Linked DNA regions of Homo sapiens: regions 2 and 3 are each linked to region 1. Evidence: fine-mapped expression QTL. A gene starts in region 1. Each other region holds a variant in brackets. All regions are shown on one strand. Distances are from middle to middle.

The links.
Region 2: its variant is fine-mapped to the expression of KCNS3 in subcutaneous fat (TwinsUK, PIP 0.92).
Region 3: its variant is fine-mapped to the expression of KCNS3 in gastroesophageal junction (GTEx, PIP 0.96).

Annotation. Positions count from the first base shown.
Region 1 is chr2:17,874,088-17,882,270 of GRCh38, forward strand. It overlaps KCNS3 (potassium voltage-gated channel modifier subfamily S member 3), which reads left to right and starts at 4,580. Exons shown (of 3, transcript NM_002252.5): 1 at 4,580-4,719. It overlaps LOC124907737 (a long non-coding RNA gene), which reads right to left and starts at 2,475. Exons shown (of 2, transcript XR_007086226.1): 1 at 1,278-2,475. RefSeq lists silencers at 4,191-4,350, 4,361-4,560, 4,651-4,700.
Region 2 is chr2:18,186,556-18,194,738 of GRCh38, forward strand. No RefSeq gene overlaps it. Among named protein-coding and RNA genes, the nearest start is that of KCNS3, 310 kb to the left of the region's middle. The variant A/C (reference allele first, on the strand shown) is at 4,805.
Region 3 is chr2:18,114,219-18,122,401 of GRCh38, forward strand. No RefSeq gene overlaps it. Among named protein-coding and RNA genes, the nearest start is that of KCNS3, 240 kb to the left of the region's middle. The variant T/G (reference allele first, on the strand shown) is at 4,364.

The sequences.
Region 1 (8,183 bases):
ACTAAATTTGCTTTGCGAGTCAGAGAAAGCCTCAGAGAATGGGTGACATATACTGGATCCTGGAGATTAAGCAGGCATTTTCCGGTGGAGAAGGAAACACTATAGGAACGAGGCACCAGAAAGGCAAGACTCAGATGGCATGCAGTGAGCATAGAGGAGAGATGGGCCACTTCTGTCGGGCTGGAATGTGAGGAAAGTGCAGAGGAGAGGGGAGGGGAGGTGGTGATGAATGAGTAAGGCAGAGAGAAAGGTGTGAAGAGCTTGAAATGTGGTAAAAAATCAAGTTGTGACCAGAGTATGAGCAATCTGGAAGGCCATCCCTGGAAATATTTTCATGGGCTAACTTCTCAGACAGAGCCTTTCCTATACTAGAGTGTTATGAGGACCTGCCAGTGTGATGGAGTAAACACCTTCCTTTCCGTGCCTAGGGTCAGGCACAGGTGTTCTGTGGCACTCACCTTGGGCAATACTCAAGGGCCTTCAGAGGGTGATTCTGAGTACCTGAGGACAGCATTCCTTTGTGCCTGGAGACATAGCCTGTCACAGGGTTTTTTCTTTCTTTAATAATTTATAAAGTGTCTCCTTTTATCTATAGAAACATAAAGCTTTTAGACCTGGCAAGGGCCTTAAAGATGATATAGTCCCAACCCAAATGTAGGGCCCAAGAGGAAATATCACTGAGGTAATCAGGGACAGAGCTGAATCAGAATTCAAGTCTTTGTACTTGAAGATCATAAAGATTTAAGGAATTTTTCTTTTTCTTTTCTTTTTCTTTTTTTTTTAGACAGGGTCTCTCTCTGTCACCCAGGCTGGAGGGCAATGGCACCATCTCTGCTCACTGCAACCTCCACATCCCAGGTTCAAATAATCCTCCTGCCTCAGCCTCCCAACTAGCTGGGACTACAGGCATGCACCACCATGCCTGGATAATTTTTGTATTTGTTATATAGGCAGGGTTTTGCCATATTGCCAAGGCTGGTCTTGAACTCCTGGACTCAAGCAATCTACCCGCCTTGGCCTTCCAAAGTGCTAGGATTACAGATGTGAGCCACTGCACCCGGCCTTAAGAAACTTTTGATATAAAAATAATACCACAGGGCAGTTAGAGTAAGCATACAATAATTTTGTGAAAAGAGCATGATCATTGTAGCAATAATCTGAAATAAAAACATTCTAGCTGATTGAGAACTAAATTTAATTTAATGTAAATTTAGTTCTGAGCTTCCTGGCAGCCAAGCAAAGACAGCGATATGATGGTTTACATGTTTTATTTTTACCTGGCAAAAGGTAGCGTAGAAATAAGGGATTTAGGTTTTGACTAGGATCAGATGAAACTGGGCAGCCTTCAGTAATTCACTTCACAAACATGCAGATCCAACAGAAGTTCCTGGAAATTCAGTCTTCAAGGAGCTTATTGTCTAGTGGAAGACAAACAGTTAAAATCCCATATGGTAGATTCTATGAAAGTGGGAGGCAAAGGCTGCTGAGGGAGTGTGGAAAGGAAACACACAACACACAACCCAGGATGAGAGAGGCGGCTTCCCAGAGGGTCGTGATTATGATGTGATTATCCACTGAATCTCATCCTAAGGGAGAAGGGGTCTGTTGGGCAAAGCAAAGCTTGGTGATGGGGAACTGTGTTCTTAGCTGAGGAGGCACTGCTGTGCATTCAGAGAGTCAAGAAAAAGCATGGTGGGTCTGGGGAGTTGCAGGTGTTTCATGTGCTCAGACTAACTGGAGTGATATTCAGGCAGCTGGGTAGAAAGTGGCAAGTGAGAGGCACACACCAAATAAACGCTGCTCATTATGACTATACCCCTCACTCCCAACCTTCCTGCCAGAGATGAGCACATCTTCATTTTCACCTGCAGACCTGTTCCAATTTAAGAAGCTAATGAGCACTTCCCTTTCCTTCAGGACTAAGGCAAGTACTAATCTAGCTGATTTCTGTCATTTGAACTTTAGTGAGAATAAAAAGTCGGGGACAGGTTTGGCTCTGGGGAGGGAAGGGAAGACATGGATGTGTGATAGGTGGGTAAGAGAGGGAGACCTCCAAACGAGGCCTGGAAGACAGACTGAAATGCATCCCACATTAGTGGCATGTGTCTCCATCCACTCCAGGAGTCCTCTGAAACCACAGAGGAGTGAGCATTATTGTCAACGATGATTAAATGATTGACCCCTCACAGATTAAATGCATGGTTTATCTAGATGTTTCTCTATAGGCACAGTTAATTAAGAGGGAACGGGATGTCATATCGGGAGGCATAAAGACTGGGCAGGAAGTGGGTGTGTGGGGAAAAGGAGGCAGTTAGTTCACAGCATGCCCCCGGTAATGGAGACTGGGGTTGGGGAAGGGGCTACATACCGTGTGTGTGAATTTACCACTTTGCCTAGCTCAACCTTGGTCAACATTCAAGAGTAAACTTTTGGGGAGCAGACCTGCCTCAGGGGTCATCCGATGTGGTCCTTTTTATTATTTCATTGGCTTCACATGATTACCCTGGGAGAGAGGAAATTTCCTTACAGATGACAAAATCAGGGCTGAAAGACGAAGTGGCTCCCTGCAGGGCTCAGCAGGGTAAGAAGTCCTGTCTGTCTCTGTCTCAGATCTGTGGCCCTTCTCTGTGCCCACTCCTACATGCCCACCGTGGAGGCCCACCCCTTCTGTCCTCAGCTCCTGCAGATGCACAGGGGCCCTTACTGGCTCCCACTGTGTGTGCCTTCCCGACTGCTCACATGTTCCGCCCAGACCCCAGGAGAAAGACCTCACTGCCAACTCTTCTGCACTGCAGGTGCCTTCTGCAGTGCTTAGAGATTCTGAACATATTTCCTTCTCAAGTAAACCATGCTGGACTTTTTGGATAAACTTAGTGATTTTAAAATGATTAAATAGGTAACTGCTGGGAGAGATCTGGAAGCATTCTTCTAAGGTGTTGATAAAATGTAAATATATTTTTAGAACAATCTTAGAGCTTATGCTAAAGATGAACTATGTAAGAAAGTTACCTTCTTCAGCCACTTGTAAATAGCAGTGTGGACCAATGCTTTGGATCCTCTTCCACAGGAGAGGAGACAAGATTGGAGGAACCAAAGAACCATGGAATTAGGGACAAATGGCTCAGAACAGTGCTCTGCAGACACATGCATCTGTACTTTGCTTCCCAGAAGCCAAATGAAACTGTTGGAGCTTGGTGGGCTCCAGGCCTCAGGGGGAAGACCACCCTAGGCTTTATCTTTTCCTCTGCCCTTCCTGCCTGCTGTTAGCCTCTCCTCTGGACCAAAACTCCCTTTAAGGGGAAAACCTCCTCTTTGAAGCCCACAAGATACGGTGAGGATTACTGCCTTTTTCTGATTTCCAACGTGGGTTTTTCATTAAGCAAAGAACAATTAGAAAACCCACACATAACATAGGGTATTCAGTAAGTTCAGGAAAGTGTTTTCCACCATCTCTTTGCCCCCATTCCCTCCCCAGCGCTTGGCTCAAGGTCTGGAGCTTGAATCTGCATCGTCTTCCTAGGTGCTTGCCTGAGGTGAGTGGTCAGCGGGTGCTGGCTTGGGGGCAGCTGGCAGGGCGTATGCTGCGGGTAGGAACCCAGGGAACACTGGGCGCCTTAGCTTGGAGCAGCTGGCTCCGAGGAATTGTTCCACGTCTGCACAACTTAAAAATCTGCAGTTTGGGGGCGGGAGGGGGAGCGCGGGGGTGGGTCCCGAAGCGTCCCATTTCTCCTCCTGGCTGTTAACTGAGCGCTCTCGCTCAGTGCAGCGAGGCCAGCGATGCCTTCTGGACCACACGCTGTCCTCGCCGAGGTCCTGGTTTGTTCCTCAACGTCGGCTGAAGGCATCGTCCCCTGACTTCCTCTTCCATTCGTCCTTCCGAAAGGGGACCCGACTGGTTCCTCTTCTACATATGAGGCGCATCTGCTTGGTGCAAATGTCCAAGCACCTCTTCTGACTCGGTGAGTGGAGGAATAAGACAAAGCATCTTGTTCTGCACTGTGCCTGAGTCTTCAGGCAGCGGGACCGATGGCAAACATTGGCAGGAACTGGAGCTATATGTACTCTCCTTCGCACTTTGTTTTAAAACAAGTTTGGGCCTCGCGATTTCCTGAGGAAATCCAGGCAAATTAGCAAAGTGTCGCTTGGGCCGCGACTTTAGAAAGGCGGTTGCCCCAGCCGCCGGGGCCGCGGGGGAGGTCATCTTTTTCCCGCAGGGCCACGGCGCTTCCGGCCCAGGAGGGCGCGCAGGTGGGAGGCGCGGGGCGCGCTCCTGGTCCCACCCGGACAGCGCCTGCCGCTCCGGGGTGACTCTGCACTTGGGCCTGGGCGGGGGCGCGCGGCCGGCAGGGCAGCATCTAGGTCTATGGGTCTGTCCGCCTGTCTGGCGGTCGGAGCCCCGCAGTCCTCAGCCGCCCGCGCCCTCGGCCCGGGGCGCCCGGCTGCGGGCCCGAAGCGAGGGGCTGGCGGAGCTGCGACCAATGGGGCGGCGGCCGAGCGGCGGGCCCCGCCCCGTCCCGTCCGGCCCCGCCCCGCCCGCAGCTCCCGGGAGCCTCGCTCTAGCGGGGCGGGACCGACGGACAGACCGGCCGACGCGGGCCACCCCGCTCTCCTCGCCGCCGCGGCGGCAGGCGCGGGGCCGCGCCGCGAGGCCTGATCCCTGCAGCGCGGGCAGGCGGCGTCGCAGAGCGGAGCTAGCTGGATGCGTCCGGACTCCTGCAGGTACCTGGCTGGCGTCCCCACCTCCCTGCGCGCTCCGGAGACTTCTCCGGGCGACCCTGCAACTTTACCGCGCCTTCCCCCACCTTTTGCTGCCCCAGTCTCCTGTGGTCCAGGTCGCGGGTGCACGACCCCGAGGGTCTACGGCCGCAGAGCACTTTCCGTCCTTCTGGGCGTCTGGCCCGCGGCGCCCGCATCCTCTGGTCCCCAGAGCCCGCCGTCGCTGGAGCCCTAAGGCTCCGCCTGTTGCGTGAACTGCGGGCTGTTGAAGCGGTGGCTGGGTTGATTTGAAAGCCTCGGGGAAGGTATTTAGGATCAGCTTTCGGGGAGTGGGGTGGGCTATGGTCAGGGGGAGGACCACCTGGAGGCGGGAGAATCGATGAGCCGAAGAAAGGCGGCACCTCGCGTAGGGGCATCCCCGGGGCGTTTCCTTGGCCGGGAAGCCGTTCCTTCCCTTCCTCGAGAGGAGGCGCTTTCCTGGCGCTTGTAAATGCTTCCCGGGCCGTCTGCTCCGCCTTCTTTGTCATTCCTCCCCTCCCCTTTGCCCTGCAGCTGTGCTAGGCGCCCCGCGACAGTTGCAGGGAAGAGCGAACCCAGGGCCCTTGCTCTCGTGCAGCGCTGCGCCCTGGGTGGGGACGGCGTGAGGCTTGCAGCGCAGGTGTGGAGTCACTTGCGGACTCTGCGTTTGGATCAGTGGCAGTGGTGGGGAAGGGTCACCCCGGGGTCAGGAACTCCTCTTTTTTTTTTCGCGCCTTTCTGGGTGGCTGCCCGACCTCCTGAGGCACCTTGGCTAGCAAGCGAGCCAGTCTTGCCGGCAGGGGCCGCGGCGAGCCTGGCTGGGCGCCTTTCGCATTGCAGGGCTTGTCCTGCACCCCCAACCCCGCTCTGTCCCTTCTCGTTCATTTGGAGAAAGGAGCACCTTTTGCATTCTTGATGTCTCCCCCCGGTTTTGTCTGGGGAGACCGAGCCGAAAGCTTCACTCGGGTGGCCCGCAGCAGGGGCAGAGGACAGCAAAGAGCTACCTCCACCTGCCAAAATGACCCAGGGGCCCTGGTTTGGTGCCAAGGCGTGAAGTGGGGGGAGGGGCGGTAGGTGTTCCTTACGTTCCTGCCGGAGAGTAGCTTTGTGGTTGGCCCGGAGCCTTCGTTCGGGTTTTTTGTCTTTCACCCTACCCTCTGAAAATACTGGAGCAGATGAGTACAAACAGTTCAGAAGCCTTTCCTGTTTCTTTCCCTGTATTTACTCAAGCGATTTGCGTAACCATTCACTTGGAACTGTGTAAGTCACTCCTAGTTGCCCCCCTTCTTAGACTATTTGCAAATACCTGCCCAGGTAAACAGGAAGCACGCACCTATCTCTTAGCTGAAGGCATATGCCCTCGTGCTTTGTCTTCCCTGCATATCTGGAGCCGAAGAGGTGGCTTTGATTCTCTAGCTGAACTTGGTGTAATGTGCAGGCTCCACTTCTTACCTGGGTGGTGACCTTCTTGAGGAGATTGACTCGTTCAGTATGCATTTCCAACCAGCCCGCCATGGGCCAGGCCCCAGGATGCACTCGGGGACAGACAGCAAATGGATGATATAATTTCTGCACCCAGTCTAGTCTGTTCTTTCTTTCTCACCAGCTTCCCTTCTTCTCTTGTTCTAATATTATGTTTGTCGTTTCTGAACTAGGAATTGTCAATATTGGGATCCGGAGAAGGTCATATGAAGGTGCCATAGAACTCTGAATCCAAAGCATGTTGTGAATATACTAAGGAGACTTGCGGGATCAGTATTAATTGAATCTTTTGTCTGACCCATAATTGCCTGAATAGAGCCATTGATGAATGCAGCTACGCTAAGGTTTTGCTGGTCAAGTGTATGAGGGCAAATTGGGAGGTCAGAAGCAGTCTTTGTTCTGTTCTGAAATATTATAATATTAAAAATCCAAAGCTCTGGAGCTTGAGTTTGCCAGCAAAGCACCAACTGAGTATCATCATCTTCTTTTAAGAAGGAAGGGGGAGAGTGGGAACTGCAGCTCCCTCCTGTCTTCAGTGGGTTTTGCCCTTCACTGTAATTCTTCACAGACGTGCATCCCTCTGTTCTACCACCCATCTCAATCTGCCCTGTGTCTGGCATTTGCCATTGGAATGTGTGTCAGCTTTGAGAGAGTAGGCACCACAGGGTTTTCCTCCTCCTTTTCCTTCTATTTTTTAATAGATAACATTTATTAGCTGCATACTATATATCAGATACTCTGCTAGGCACTTTTCCAGGCATTATCTCATTTAATTCCCATAACAACTGCATGAGGATGTGATGCTTGCTTTCTTCACTGCAGTATTGCTGTGGGAGCCAGCAGTAGATGGAACCCCCCAGGTGCATGTTGAGTCAGATGGGAGGCCAGTGGGAAATGGTGGGCCTGAGGTCTCACTAGGAGGAAGGACGACTCTGCAGGGTATGTTGAAGCAGAGAAGGTGGGTGTGTTTATTGACTCTGCTTATCAGGTGTCAGGAAAGTGCATCTTCCAGAGTGCCACCTGTGTGAAATACCCACAAAGAAACATCATAGAGAAGAGAATAGGATGTGGGGACCCAGTTTCCAGCTGTGATATCTATTTCTTTATGGCTCCTTGACTTGACATGTCATTTTGCTAATCTGGGTCTTGGTCTGTTTAGCTGCACTGACCTAGATCTCTAATATTTGTTGTTACGCTGTACTAGGCACTAAAAGCTAAAAGCTTTTACATGTATGAACTCACTTCATCCTGATGACAATCTTAGGATGGTAGGTTCTATTATCACCGTATTTTACAGGAGGAAAGAGAGACAAACTGAGTAACTTGTACAAGGTCACCCAGCCCGGAAAAGGTGAAGCTAGGATTCTATCCCTTGCAGTCTGACTGCAGAGCCACTGTGAGATTCAGTTTTCCTCATTTATTCCTACAGTTCCAACACTGTTCCCTGTGCTTAGTGGGATCTCGGACTACATTTGTTGAACAGTGACAGAGGGGGCTTACAGTTACCAAGTGACTTTTGGGTCCCATGTCTCAGCCTTAAAAGGAATCTCAAAGACTGCGTTAGCAAAATATTATTTTTGCCTTTGACAAAATGGTCTGCTTTTCGGTGAAATTCTGCCCAGCTGGTTAGGAAAAAAGGAAGATAAACCATAAAGATCATGGGCCAGGGAAACATTATGGTGAGTTTCAGAAAATGTGTTTATCAATATAAGAAATTCAGAAAAACCACAGAACACTTTGTACTCCGACGCAAATTTGTCAAGTAAATCAACCAGTGACCAATTCACAAGTGCTTATTGTATGGGTGCTAAGTGCCCAGTACTACAGGCAATGAAGGTAGGCAGAATCTATGACATGGTCTCTGAGCTTGAACTTATAGTGGATCTGGAGACTCCAGATCAGTGAGACAAGATAGAACAATACAAGATGCTAAATGTTTAAGTCCTGATAAAAATCACAATGACTCG
Region 2 (8,183 bases), 310 kb after region 1:
GAACTTCAACACATATTTCAGGTTCTAACTGAAATGCTGCCTTTTTTCTAGAACACTTCCTACTACCCCACCTCACCACTACACACAGAATTACTTAGCCTGTACTTGGACTACCCACAACATGCCCTCCTGTGTTATGATTCTTTTTGGGTTTTATGGGTGTTATCTGTTGCATGTCTAGTTCACATTTCCCTTCTTCACACTAGGCTATGAGCTCGCCAAGTCAGGCGTGGGTCCCACTCATCTTCCTATCCCTAGTGTTTTGCTTGCAGCCTGCTCCTTCTGTGAGTTTGCTGAGGCCCAACCATGAGGAGCTGGCCAGAGCCACTGTGACTTTTTATTGGTTACATCATCCTTTTTGTTGGGACTTATGGCAGTTAATATATATAGGGCTGTGTGTGTTGGTTTTCCAGCCCTATTGAGAGTCTTGGCATAATGACATCTATGTAATCAGGGAGCCAGAGGAAGTGAGCTGATTTGATGAGACTTGGAAGAAAAATTATGCTTTGTAAACCCAATCAAGTCATGGCATAGCAACCACTGTGGATTAAAAATCTACTATGTAATATGCACATCCATTATGCATCAATAAAAAAGAAAATAATCTATGCGCTGAAAGCTGCATTCATCCTAGTGGGGTGTCATGACTTTCACATCAGAATTTTGGAATGTTTGCAAAGAACTCTGGAAGAAACATAAGCAGAAGCAAAATGCAATTGCTTTTATTTTGAGCCTCACGTCAAATACCTGCTATTCCCTCACAGGGTTAGGCAATCATACCAGCTCAAGAAGTTACTGAATCTTCTCTTCCCTCCTCCTTCATTTTCTTTCTTTATTCTTTCTGGCAACAGATGTCTGCAGCCTAAAATGCCAAAGTTTTATAGTAAATAAACATTTTCTTCATGCTCAGAGTTTTCTCATGGCAGGCAGAGGTGTTTGAAGCCAAGTATGACTCACAGTAAGTTTCTAAATAGTGATTTAATAAATACATAAAGTAATTTAACTTGGTTATAATTGAGAATGCAGAACTTAGGTGATGCTCCATGGTATCAAAGGCTTCCAGGCAGAGGGGGCTGCTGTCCACCGTTCAGGGCCTCTTGGTCACCATCTCCTCTAATCAGCATGCACAGCGGAAATCCTACTGATAACAGCCCATGTCCTGGGGAACACTGATGCTGCTCAGGTCAGTGTGTCTGGGGACTCAGAGTAATTGATCCAATAACAAGTTCCAGAGCCTCCAGAACAGAGTCGTGAGTATCTGCCATCTTTTTTTCACCTACAGAAGCACAGCAAATGTCTTCATTTATTCTCTCTGGCTGAATCTTTGTAAATTCCACTCATCTTTCTTCTTTGGACTTTTTGATTAAGAATCCTGTCAGCAGAGCAATTTGATGTCCAAGGGAAGATGTTGTTTGTGAGGCATTTTTCTTCTTCTTTTTCTTCTTTTTTTTTTTTTTTGTAGTTGAAGTAGAAGATCCTTTTATGCTTGAAAACCTTTCTATTACTTTTCCCCACCATGAATGTAAAGTTAACTTTACATTGTGACAGAATGTGTTAATGTTTCTTTCCTGTGCAACTTTGCCTGCATTGCTCTGGGACTGTGCACACAGCTTTGGATTCCGCAGGTGCAGAAACACAGCTGCAGCTGTGTGCTCTAGGTGCAGAGGGGGCAGGGATCCCAGGTGAGGGACAACTTGCCTTCCTTGCCAAAAGGTGACTGTCCTGCACGTGCTGATTGTAGGTAGGGACTGAAAAGTGACAGGGCCAAAAGCACTTTCAGAGAAACTACAGGATGAAGAGCAAATTCACAGCCTCTAAATCCCTTTTCCTAGCACTTGTTTCCTAGCCATGCCATGCCAAGCTAATTTAAATATATGAATATTAATGGATTTGAAAATTATTTAGCATGAACCTACTAAGTGCCTGGCACCATGCTAAGCATTATGGGTAGAATGCATAATTACATCCTGGAGAAGCTCGAGTCTAATGGAAGAGACAGATACATATACCCACAAATCAAGTAAGCACAGGGGGTATTATGGAAGTGAAAAGGAGGGTCTCCCTAATCTGGATCTGGCAGATGCTCCAGACTAAATCATAGCCATTGACTGCAGGGCTGCTGGGAGGACAAGGTCAATGTGCACATTCAGGGGGGTTGTCCTTTTGCTCTTCCTCAAGGTCTCAACCACTTGGCTTAGTAAACAGGCATTTAGTTTTCAGTCTGGTGAGATTGTCCTCTGAGGCTGATAAAATGAAAAGCTTCCAGAAGCTTCTTAAGAAAATATAATTTGAGTTAAGGCAAATACCTTAAATGATGCATCTGAACTTCAAGGAGGAGGCAGTGGTGTGCACAGGCTGCTGGAAGTCAAGGACTGTTTTTTATATTCACAAAACCCAGGGCAATGCCTGGTAAAGAAAAGAAACTCAGCACCTACTGCTGGCATAATTAGTTGGGAGTCGAGTGATCTGTGTTCTGGCTGAGTAGCATTGGATCCTTCACTTTTCCCTTATCTTTGTTTCCTTATCTAAGAAATGAGGAGTCATATTTGGAAGATCTCCAAGGACTCTTTCTCCTTTGATATTCTCTGGGTCGGCCAAAAAATCTAAAGCACCCCCACCACCCAAAAAATCCATCCTCTCAGAGAGAAAAGAGACCCAGGGAGGCTGAAGGTACCTAGGAGGGAAAGGGCAGTTCTCTGGAGGGTATGTATAACATCAGCTCATAATGTAAAGTGAAATCAGATAAGCTCAAAGCCCAATGTATTTTACAGTGGATAATTCATGGTTGATTGAACGGTTTGAAGATTAAATATTCAAGGTTAAGTATACATTTCCATTAAGGGGATCTATATCCCCGTGACACAGATTTTTTTTCAGTACCTCTTGTTTATGGAGTTATTTGGAACACTAAAACGCTAGGAAAAGAAGAGTGGTAATCATATTGCTTCTTGGATTTGGAAGAAAATTAAGATTAGAGGCTTGAGGATAATTTATGAAATTTGTCATAGTTGATTGACAGACGTCAATGATGGAAATGGGATATTGCATCCCTCTTCCATCTAAGTATTGAACAGGTGAAATGCTTCCTGGCAATAAGTGATTTACCTGGAAAAAAAACAGGACCACACACTGTTACTTATTTCTTAATCATATCCATAGTTCAATACAAAGTACCACTGTGTTCAAACTCAAAATGCTGGAGGCTCTGAATGGGGAGCCCAATGCTACTAAACCATGTTTGTTGTCTGAATATCTCACCTAAAATTTGGCCCAGAATTTTCACTTGAATCTTATGGTGACATTTGAGGAGCTCTGAAAAAGGAAGAAGTCATGTCTCAGAGGCTCTTGCTTGCTTGCTTGCTTTTCTTCTAGATTCAGGCATGAAAGGACATGAGTTTGAAGTTTTGTCACAAATTAGGTGATTAGTGTAGTGAGAAACAAGACAGGCGGGACAGATGAACAAAGTAGAAATATCACTAATTAAGAATTTTGCAGAGGTTGTACCAGAGAGTAATTGATATAAGAGATGTAGCCATAAAAATATTTTGTTCAGGGACAGAGAACATAATTTTTATAGAGAGGGAGTTGGTAGGTAAGGCAGGGAAGGGCTTGGGAAGAAATTGGAGTTCAGGATGTTAGTCATAGAGGAACAGGAAGCCGGAACCTTTACATGCATTGATTTGGAGCAGAATAAAGAAGATGGTCAAAAAAAGCTGGACCCATGAGTTGTTTCCATCATACTCCATAGCAAATGCCACTACACTTTACGGACTCTACATACCCTTCCAACTGCCTCCAGTATTGACCTCAGAATCCAGGGCAGGCTGAAGTGGAAATCAACTAGTTACAGCTTCCAAGAGTGTGAGGTCAGGGTTTTGAATGAGCCATGCAATACCTGTATACTTAGAAAAGTCATATCTCTAAATGCCCTTGTTTCAGAGGGTTTCAGAATTTTGAGCACTCTTAAATTCTTTAGGAAGGGCTGGAATAGTTAGCTGCTCAGTGTTAATGATATTAATAAGTGTGTCATCTGTCAGGTCCACCAGTGTGAAACTGTCATCTGTGCAGATTCCACCCCACATGATTCCCTGTTGCAGTTTGCAGGCTGTAGCTCATCCTATGCTGGAAAATAGAGAAAATGTGAGGTCTCCTGCATTTTTCTAAGGGTCTGCACAACCCTCAAGGTAAATCCATTTCCATTTCAAGTGAAATAATTACTTAGGATGAGGACAGTTGTAGTTTACAGATCAGTTCATCATTAGCTAAGCTATTGTGTATCTGATAATTCCAAAGTTATGGATTTATTTTGGGAAATGAAAATAAACAAAAATAAAAAAGAAATGAGACCAGAATGAGTTTCATAGGCTGCCAACCATAAAAGATACCATTTGAATTTGTGAATAATGAATAAACAGGCTTTCACTTGGATTCAATTTACTTGGTTGCTACCAACTTCCCTATGAAACATATAAGCATTAACTTACCTGCTGGTCACTTCTCAGGACACATTGAGAAATATGACAGGAATGCTAGATGGTGTCAGAAATCATTTTTAGTGTGAAAGGAGTCTACTTTATTACTTTTGAGTTTCTTACCCTTATAAAAGCCTTCAAGTCTAGAGAAATGCTGAAAATCTTCCTAAAGGAGAGCATTCAGATCAGCTAAATTAATACATGGGTAAGAAAGTTTCCATATCTGATTCTTAACACTATGATTCCACCCAGGGCTAGAAGAGAAACAGGGTGGGTTAGGAAGTCAGAGACTGGTTCTGGTGATGCCATTTAATAGCTATTAAATCTTAGAC[A/C]AGTCTTCAAGTGTTCTGTTATCACTGGCAACTTCATAAAAGCTACTTACAGAATTGTTTTGAAAACTAAATAAATGAATATAGAGGGATATCACTAAACCATAAAGTATGAGTATTTTTAGGTCTAAATTCATTTCTTTTACATATTTAGGCTGCCTATATTAAAATGGAAAGGTACAAACACATTTTCTGTAAATAAGGCATTATGACTGCATGTTTGTATCCCCTGAAGTTTATACCTTGAAATCCTCACCCCTAAGCTGATGGTATTAGGAGGAGCCTTTGGGAGTTGATTAGGTCATGAGAGAGAGTTGAGCCCTCATGAATGCAATTAGTGCCCTGATTAAAGAGGCCCCAGAGAGCTCTCTTGATATTTTTTTTCCCACCTGTAGGATACAATGAGAAGTCAACAGTCTGCAACCCAGCAGAGGGCCCTTACCAGAACCTGACCATGCTGGCACCCTGATCTTGGACTTCTAGTCTGCAGAACTCATAAGAATAAATTTCTGTGGTTTATAAGCCACCCAGTCTATAATACTTTGTTTTAACAGCCTGAATCGACTAAGACAGGAGTGACTGGGTCTATCAGGGTATTGCTTGGATGAAAAAGTTTTTTGGAAAGAGCATGCATTTCATAGGGGAATATAGGTTTCCTCATTTAAAAATTGCACCAAATGATTAAAATAGAAATCATTACCCACCATTTTTTTTCTCTTTCCTTGAATGTGAGGGAGAATAGGATGATGTAAACTATCCTAAGAGTGGCAGCCATTTCTCCAACACCATCTCTCAGCAGACAGGGTCTTTACCATAAAATTCCTCCTGGGTCAGGCCTTTGTGATTATCAGAATTCAGGGAGCATGACATGAACCTGAAAAGGAAAATCTACTGCCATTGGCAGAATTTGTACTCCAGTTTGTACTCTGGCCTATAAACTCAGACTCACAAACAAGTGATGTGGGTTGGCTGTGTCCCCACCCAAATCTCATCCTGAATTGTAGTTCCCATAATCCCCATGTGTGTTGGGAGAGATGAGGTGGGGATAAATGAATCATGGGGTAGTTTCCCCCATCGTGTTCTCGTGATAGTGAGTTCTCACAAGATCTGATGGTTTTATAAAACCTTATATGTTTTATAAGTATGCCATCACTGGGCACTCATTCTTCTCCTTGCTGCTGCCATATGAAGAAGGATGTGTTTGCTTTCCCTTCCACCATGATTGTAAGTTTCCTGAGGGCTCCCAGCCATGCTGATCTGTGAGACAATTAAACCTCTTTCCTTTATAAATTACCCAGTCTCAGGTATGTCTTTATTAGCAGCATGAGAATGGACTAATACAACAAGCGTATCTCTACATTTGAAAATTTGAGCAGCATTTGAAAATATTAAACTTTATTCTGCATAATTGTGTTCCTTTTATTTGGAAGAGAGACCATTTTGAAGATAATGAATGCTGTTGATCTTTAATTTTTCTCTCATGCTATTCTTCCCGGGACTACAGCCTACATTATTGACAATGTCTCATTAGTCCTCATAAAAAATGATGTCCCCTGTGATTGTCTTTTTCTGAAGTTTCTCCTGAAAGAAATGAGTTTGGAACCATCTGTGAGAAATTGAAGAATTCAAAAAATTTCTAAGAGTTGAATGAAAAGAATTTACATTTTTCAGTTGGAAACAAAAATCAGCAGGGTCTCTTGAGAAACACAATCTACTGTTCACCTTCCTCAGAGAGACGTGTGTTTGCAAAACCAAATCTGCCAACAGTACACTTCAAGGACTCTCTTGAAACTGAACCCAAGTGCATTTAAAATATAAACTACATTTGTTGGTTTCTGTTTTTTTGCATATCATTGGGGTCATAGAATGATGAGGAATCAGGGTTCTTATTTGTTAAATGAAATGTTATTAAATTCACATAGTAAAAGATGTCAAATAAATTTATAGGGGAGACAGAGTGAAAATGGAAATTGCAATCATTTAGGTATGAGCAATATTTTGTGTTTATTACCTGATCCTCCTCAAAGGAATTTAAGGAAATTATATAGTCTTAAAGATTGGAAGAAAACATTACTGAATCACACTTGAGAATGACCTGCAAGTGGGGCAAATCACCCCTGAAAGGTCGTTCTGCTTCAGCGTGAACATTGCACAATGACTGCATCTCCATCCCATTGGTAGGCAGCTTGCAGGTTAGAAGCTTCTCATATTGAGTCGAAATTTGTCTCATTTGTTTTATCCACTTGTCCTAAATTCCACCTCACCAATATATAATTTTTTATTGTAAATTACATCCTTTCAAGAAGTCGAAGATAAATCCTTTATCCTATACAAGTTTTCTTCAGAGGAATCTGAAAGGAAATTACATGTTGTTTTCCTTTATGCTTCAAATATGCTTAGTAGATGTTTGCAGTAGTCTGAAAGTCTTTCATTCTATGGATGACACCTCTGCCTTACTCTGTTATGATGAGAGTAGGCTGTTATAACTGGCTAAATGGCACATCCTCAGCCAACAGAGATATTGAGATGTCTGTCACAGATATAAAACAGAATTGTTCTTTTCTCCTGGATCTTTGATTTTCTAAGGCAATATATGTAATTTCAGCTCTGCTATCTCATCTTCCTAGTATCTGTTAGTGGAATGGCCACGGATGTTGAAACCTGAGAAGCCAGTTTCAGATTTTCTCTGAAGACTGAAGTCCAGTCAATTTTGGGCTTTACATTCCCTTCTTAGTTGATAGCAATTGAAAGTGCCACTGAAGCAGCCAATGATACAATTGATCAGCTTGGACTGATCAATAACTGAGTACCTAGGGCCTGATTTGTGTGTTAGCCTTCTAGTTTCTGAGAAAAAAATAAAACTTTCCCCTAAATAAAGACATCAGTTGGGTAGCTGAGATCAGAAACTCAAGGTCAGTGTGTGACTCAATGGCAGAGCAGTGGCCTCAGACTTCCCCTGCCTCGCTCCACTTTTGAAGTTGGTTGACTGCCCTGTGACTGTACAGAGGTCCTAATGGTTTACCCATTGCACTGCTTTGTTTGATGTGTACAGTATTCTTATTGCAATTCCCCTGTCTTGATGAATCAGCTCTATCTAGGCAGTGGGCAAGAAGAACACATTGGGCAGTTACATTTTCAACTCAGAAAGATCACTTTGCTGTTTGTGAATTCCTCCTCTCTTATTTGTATGTACATTACATATATATGTATATATACAATATATTGCTTTTCTATTTTTATATACATAAATTATTTACAGATGTTGGAAAAGAGATAGCAGAAGTATGATCACAGAGAAAAGGGAAAGGATACTTTTACTTCTACTCTGTAATATTTTCCCAGAACTCTTTCTTATCATTTTCTGTGCTTACTCATCAACTCT
Region 3 (8,183 bases), 240 kb after region 1:
TGCGGCCTTCCCAGCCACATGGAACTGTGAGTCCATTAAACCTCTTTTTCTTTATAAATTATCCAGTCTTGGGTATGTCTTTATCAGCAGTGTGAAAAGTGGCTAATACAGTGAATTGGTACCAGCAGTGGGGTGCTGCTGTAAAGATAGCTGAAAATGTGGAAGTGACTTTGGAACTGGATAACAGGCATAGTTTGGAACAGTTTGGAGGGCTCAGAAGAAGACAGGAAGATGTGGCAAAGTTTGGAACTTCCTAGAGACTTGTTGAATGGCTTTGACCAAAATGCTGATAGTGATATGGACAATATGGTCCAGGCTGAGGTGGTCTCACATGGAGATGAGGAACTTATTGGGAACTAGAGTAAAGGTCACTCTTGCGATGCAAAGAGACTGGCAGCATTTTGCTTCTGCCCTAGAAATCTGTGGAACTTTGAACTTGAGAGAGATGATTTAGGGTATCTGCGGGAAGAAATTTCTAAGCAGCATATCGTTCAAGAAGAAGCAGAGCATAAAAGTTTGGAAAATTTGCAGCATGACCATGCAATAGAAAAGAAAACCCCATTTTCTGAGAAGAAATTCAAGCTGGCTACAGAAATTTGCATAAGTAATAAGGAGCCAAATGTTAATCACCAAGGCAATGGGGAAAATGTCCCCAGGGCTTGTCAGAAACCTTCTTGGCAGCCCCTCCCATTACAGGTCTGGAGGCCTAGGAGCAAGCATTGGTTTTATGGGCCAGGCCCAGGGTCCCCCTGCTGTGTGCAGCTTAGGGACTTCGTACCCTGCATCCCAGCCACTCCAGCCATGGCTAAAAGGGGCCAAGGTACAGCTTGGGCTGTTGCTTTAGAGGGTGTAAACCCCAAGTCTTGGCAACTTCCATGTGGTATTGAGCCTGTGGGTGCATGGAAATCAAGAATTGAGGTTTGGGAACCTCTGCCTAGATTTCAGAGGATGTATGCAAATACCTGGATGTCCAGGCAGAATTTTGCTGCAGGGGCAGGGCCCTCATGGAGAACCTCTGCTAGGGCAGTGTGGAAGGGAAATGTGGGGTTGGAGCCCTATACAGAGTCCCTACTGGGTCACTGCCTAATGGAGCTGTGAGAAGAGGGCCACTGTCCTCCAGACCCCAGAATGGTAGATCCACCGACAGCTTGCACTGTGCACCTGGAAAACCTGCAGATACTCAATGCCAGCTGTGAGAGCAGCCAGGAGGGGGGCTGCACCCTGCAAAGCCCAAGGCCATGGGAGCCTACTTCTTGCATCAGCGTGCTCTGGATGTGAGACATAGAGTCAAAAGAGATCATTTTGGAACTTTAAGTTTTAATGACTGCCCTATTGGATCTCAAACTTGCATGGCTCCTTTGTTTTGGCCATTTTCCTATCTGGAGCGGATTTATTTGCCCAATGCCTGTACCTGTATTGTATCTGGGAAGTAACTAACTTGCTTTTGATTTTACAGGTTCATCGATGGAAAGGAGTTGCCTTGTCTAAGATGAGACTTTGGACTGTGGACTTTTGAGTTAATGCTGAAACGAGTTAAGACTTTGGGGGACTGTTGGGAAGGCATGATTGGTTTTGAAACGTGAGGACATAAAATTTGGGAGGGACCAGGGGCAGAATGATGTGGTTTGGCTGTGTCCCCACCCAAATCTCATCTTGAATTGTAGCTCCCATAATTCCCCCATGGTGTTGGAGGGAGCTGGTGGGAGATAATTGAATCATGGGGGTGGTTTCCCCCATACTATTCTCATGGTAGTGAATAAGTCTTGAGATCTGATGGTTTGATAAGGGGTTTCCCCTTTCACTTGGCTCTGATGTTCTCTCTTGCCTGCCACTAGGTAAGACATGCCTTTCACCTTCTGCTTTGATTGCGAGGCCTCCCAAGCCATGTGGAACTGAGTCCATTAGACCTTTTTTTCTTTATAAATTACCCAGTCTTGGTAATGTCTTTATCAGCAGTGTGAAAATGGACTAATATAGTTCCAAAGAAGGGGAAGACTTTATAACTGTTGAAACCTGATATAAATATTGTATAATATAAAAGCTACATAAGTATTACATAATAAAATTACCTAAAGGTACATAAAATGAGCTATATATATTATCAAACATCATTCATGGTTTTATTTGCTTTATAATAATGTAAAAACCTCACCTCCTTCATCAAGGGAGCAATATAAAAGACAAAATGAGTATCAGCTTGGGGCGGAAACTATTGCCATCATATCCAGATTATTTGTTTTTCCCTTCAACTAATTTCTACAAGTAGTATCTCTGGCAAGTCAGAGTAGTATCTCTGCCTCAATGACTCACCCACACCCGGATCCACACCGAGAGAGAGAAATTTGGAGAGAGCCACCTCCCTCTACCACCTCCTTTCAAATTGTTCTTTCCAAAACCCTAATCAGGCTCCAGACCCTTCAGAAAACCTTTCAGAAAATACTTTTCTTTTGCTAGAAATCCTTCTGCATGGTACAGGTTGAGTTCCCTCTTCCAAAATGCTTGGGACCAGAGTGTTTTGGATTTCAGATTTTTTTTTTTTTGATTTTGGAATATTTGCATTATACCAGTTCAGCATCCTTAATCTGAAAATCCAAAATCTGAGATGCTCCAATGAGCATTTTCTTTGAGCATCATGTCTGTGCTCAAAAAGTTTCAGAGTTTGGAACATTCTGGATTTCAGACTTTTGGATTAGGGATGCTTAACCCCTACCACATGATTGAATGTGCTTTTTTGATTAATTATCTCCTGTTTTGTTTTTGTTTTTGCCTTAGTATTGTCTTAGATACAGCGTGAGCTCCTGAAAGGCAGAAACCTTGTCATGTTTTTATACTCTCCTCCTTGGGCCCATGGAGTTTACAGAGCATCTAGGAAGTGCTCAAGGCACCCTCTGTGCTTGATTTGTTGGCCTTGTCTGTTTCCCTAATGGATGGCTGATGCTCAGACTCTGCATAGGAAGCCTCATGGTGCAGTAAGGTTTGTCCTCTGCTCAGACCAGGGAGGTGGTTGAGATCACGGGCCCTGGAGATGACTGCCTGGGTTCAGCTCTCTGTTCCACTGCTTACAAACAAACCATGGTAGCTTGGTCTAATGCCTAATGTCCTGTGTAGCATTTTGTCGTCTGTAAATTGGATGTGATAACAGTACCCACTAATTGAGTGGGAGTGATGATTTAATGAGACAATACATGTAACATGCTTTGAAGAATGTCTGGAGCGAAGTAAACACAACGTACATCTGCTACTGTTCACATTTGCTCCATTTTTCTGGAATCCCTGATCTACTTTCTTCCACAGGTCAAATGGCCTGTAAGATTTTCCATTTGCAGTGTTTAGGATTTCGTTGCTGTCTGGTCTTCAATTCAAGCTGCTCATGGCTCAGTAATGCTCCTGGCTAGAGGCAGATCACTGTTGGGATTCAGGCATTCCTTTGGATATCCCTGACAATAGTTGTGATAATTACAACAGCTGTTACAGTTTAATAAGTGGTTTCATAGCCTTAATTCCCCTGATCTTCTTTCAGAGCCAGGGCTGCCCCATATGGTTGTGCAGGTTGTACACTGCTCAGCTGCAGCAGGCACCATTTACTTTGTAGTCTTTGTGAAAGGCGCCCCCTAGAGCTCTGCAATGCAGTGCTTTCCACTGCCACATGATGGTGAACCTGCACACAGCTGCCGTATGAGGTTTGTGTTATTATTCTCATTTTTTGTTTCACTTTTTGTCTTTTTATTAGAGAGTTTAGTCAATTTACATTAAATGTTATCATCAATAAGAAAGAACTTACATCTGCCATTTTTTTATTTTTTTGGTTGTTTTGTGGTTTTCTCTTTCTTTTTTTCTCCCTGTATTAGTCTGTTCTCATGCTGCTAATAAAGACATACCCAAGACTGGGCAATTCACAAAGAAAAGGAGGTTTAATAGACTCACAGTTTCACATGGCTGGGGAAGCCTCACAATCATGGTGAAAGGCAGAGGAGGAGCAAAGGCATGTCTTATATGGGGGCAGGCAAGAGAGCTTGTGCAGGAGAACTGCACCCTATAGAACCATCAGATCTTGGGAGACTTATTCACTATCATGAGCATAGCACAGGAAAAACCTGCCCCCATGATTGAACTATCTTTACCTTGTCCCTCCCCTGACAGGTTGGGATTATGGGAATTACAATTCAAGATGAGATTTGGGTAGAGACACAGCCAAACCGTATCATTCCATCCCTGCCCCTGCCAAATCTCATGTCCTCACAATTCAAAATACAACCATGTCCAGGCAGAAGTTTGCTGCAGGGGAGGGGTCTCATGTAGAAACTCTGCTCGGGCAGTGCAGAAGGGAAATATGGGGTTGGAGCCCCCACACAGAGTCCCTACT[T/G]TGGCACTGCCCAGTGGAGCTGTGAGAAGAGGGCCACCAACCTCCAGACCCTATATTAAAAACAAAACTGTGGCTTAAGGGATTTTTAAAAATATAAAATACAAAGAAAAAGATTTTACCATAAGTCCACGAATGCTTCTAATAGTCTGTGTATTTTGTCAGTTACCAGGAAATTACCCTGGAGAGAAGCAAACAATCAATTTCAAACTGTTTGCCTTTATTGCATCTTCTTCTCCACCCTCGCATTGAGAAATGGAAAATCCAATAACTAATAAAGAGCACTGTAAAGTCCTTTCCCTTTGTCGAAAGGATTTAATCATTGGAGTGAACTCCACAAATATTTGTGCTGTAGATGAGAGAGTGAGTCAGCGAATGTGGTGTTTCCTTGCTCCAAGTCTCCTTGGAGTTTTCTACAGGGATTTTGGGTAACAGGGTAGCTCTGAACTGGGTAGATCTGTCTGTCAAGAGGAACGCTCTAGAAAGCTCAGGACTCTCCTGCACAGGGCTTAGCCCACTGTGCTCAGGCCCCTGGGGACTCAGCGGATGCATGACTGTTGAATTTGGAGCCTGTCTCTGGTCCCAGGGTTCTATCTGTGTTTGCCAGCATTCACTGGGATGTAGACTGAGGCTCAGACAATCTACCAGCTACCCATTTTCCATGGGAAAGCTTATCAATGTACATAGATAGAGGCTATTTTCAGAACTCATGGCTTTGATTGTTCCCATTCTCCCCTTGCAGTTTGCCTTTGAGTGGGGTCCGCCAGGGTCTCGGAAATAGATAACTGTTTCCTATTTTTCCCTGGTATCTGGCCTGCATCACAGGTCCTCCCCATCCAGCCGCTACATTACCTTTCCTAAAACACAGCGGGGAGTGTTTGACCTTTGTCAAACACTAATTACTTGAAAGAAGAAGTTTCTTAGCAGAATCTCAAAGCTCTTGATAATCCATAATCTGATCCCAGCTTCCTTCACACCAACCTCATCTCTGCCACGTGGTCTCCACAAACTTCCGCTGCACCAGACCATGTGTAAGTCTTAGCCTTCCTCCCTCTGTCCTGCACGGGCTGTGTCTTCTGCTGTGGTGCCCTGCCTTCTCTGCTTTTTCGCCTTCAGTAGCTTGTTCTCTTACGCTTAATATGGTCAGTACCAATTTCTCACACTTTTTTATGTGGAATCCATTCCAATTGAGAAAACATCTCTCTTTATAAATATTTCACCCTGCTGCACACCAGAGACAGTCAGCTTCCATGCATCTTTTAATCAGACTTCTCTTAGATGCTACTAAGGGTCCGTTTCTGTGTTTGAGTCTCTCTTCTCCAGTACATTACTAGGTTGTTGAGGGCAAGAGACATTATTTATACAACTCTGACTCCTTCATGGGAGTCAGGCCAGGCCTGGTGTATGACTTACCAAATTAAATTGAATTTCTAAACCATCTAAACATATTTCTTCCATGATGACAGGGGAGGTTAATTATGTGTGTTTATAAGTTGGCTGTTGCCAGGAGACACGGAGGCGATCACTTGTCAGCATTGCTCTTTGGAAATGAAACTGAAGGCAGTTGGAAGCTGGTGAACCGCTCTCTGGCAATTAGACTGGCAGGCTACCAAATGTAGCAATGGCAGGCAGGAGGCATCATCAGCTCTTACCCTGTGTCTCTGCCTGGCTTTGTTCCCAAGAGAATGTCCAACCAGAGCTGACACTGGGAAGCTCATAGATTCAGAATGCTATCACCAATTCAGGACAAAGATGGCAGTGGGGAGAGGAGCCATATATCCTACCAGCTCCTGGGATGGGTTAGTGCTGCAGCTTCGGTGGAATTCATGTGACCCCAGAGGGATAGATAGGGACAAGACAGACATTATCTTCTATGGAAGGCTCCAGGTGGGCCACACACTTGGTCCTCACTGAGGTAATCATTCCATCCAGCAATGCAGCTCTCTGGCAGTTGCTTTGTAGCCTTTCCCTTGAAAAAGGCTGGGTAAGGACTGACTTGGTCTCAAGTCACTGTCTTAGATGCCTTGCATCCCCTTCCTCCTTTAGTTGTTGGAATCCTCACTCTCTTTTGCTTTCAGGAAAATGCTCTCCAGTCCCTCCATTACAAACAGAAGTTTTGAAAGAACAACAACAACAAAAAAGCTCTCCCAGGGGAGTTTACATTTTGACTGAGAGTAAACTAAACAAATAGTGCATAAGTGGTTGAATTCAGAGCAGCAAGCATCAGAAAAAGGAAATCTGGGAGAGGACTGCATGGCATTTATGTTACCATTGAAATCACACCATAGATTGGCTTCTTCCTTAATCTATATGTACAGAGGCATCTGTCTACCACACTTATTGACATATTGAAAAGATTCAATAGATGTTTGCTGAACTCAGCTGTTAAATTTTAGGAAAATAAACCTGACCATGTTTTAAGATCCTCTACTGGTACTGTAGCATTATGAAGGTTAAAAAGAACGTAGGAATAAATGCTTTCTGGCTCAACTGCTAGACCAACTGACAAGACAGACAGAGAGGAAGCAATAATACTAGCAGCAGCAGCAGTAGTAGTAATAATAATCATAACAGAAGAAGAACATATAGGGAAAAAGCTTCTTGACATTGGCCTTGGCAATGATTTCTCGGATATGAAACAGGCAACAAAAGCAAAAATAGATGAGTGGGATTATATGAAACTAAAAAGCTTCTGCAAAGCAAAGGAAATAATCAATGAAATGAAAAGACAACCTAAAAATGCGAGAAAATATTTGTAAACCACATCTGATAAGGGATTAACATTCAAACCATAAGGAACTCATATAACTCAATAGCAAAAAATCAAATAATCAGATTAAAAAATTGATAAAGGAACTAGTAGACATTTCTCTAAAGAAGACATACAAATGGCCGACAGATATATGAAAATGTACTCAACATCACTAATTATCAATGAAATGCAAATGAAAACCACAATAAGATATCACCTCACACCTGTTAGATTGCTTATTCTCAAAAAGATGAAAGGCAAATGTTGGTGAGGATATGGATAAAAAGGGAACCCTGTACGCTGTTGGTAGGAATGTAAATTGGTGCAGCCACTATGGAAAATGGGTATGGAGGTTTCTCAAAACAAAAACTAAAACTAAAACAAACATACCAAAAAAAAAAAGCCCCCAAAACAACCTAACATTAAACCTACCCTGTGAACCAGCAGTCTCTCTCACTTCTGGGTATATACTCAAAGGAATTAGGATCTTGAAGAGATGTCTGTACTCCTACGTTCATTGTAACATCACATCACCCAAGATGTGGAAGCAACCTGAATGTTTATTGATGGATGAATGGTTAAAGAAAATGTGGTATATGCATAGAATGGAATATTATTTGGGGCATAAAAAGAAAAAAAAATCCTGTCATTTTCAACAACATGGATGAACCTGGAGGGCATTGTGTTAAGTGAAATATGCCAAACACGGAAGAACAAATACTGTATGATCTCACTTATGTGTGGAATTAAAAATAGTCAAACTTATAAAAGAAGAGAATAGAATGGTGGTTGTCAGGGGTCGGGGGGAGGCGGAAACTGGAGTTACTAGTCAAAGGCTACTAAGATTTAGTTACACAAGATGAATATAGATCATAGAGACCCACTGCACAGAATAATGCCTATAATAGACAAAACTGTATTGCATACTTAAAATGTACTAAGAAAGATCTTATATTAACTGTTCTTATTACTACTACTACTAATAAATAAAGATGGTGGAGAAGACTTTTGGAGGTGATGGATATGTTTATGGCATGAATTTTGGTGATGGTTTCACACATGTGTGCTTAT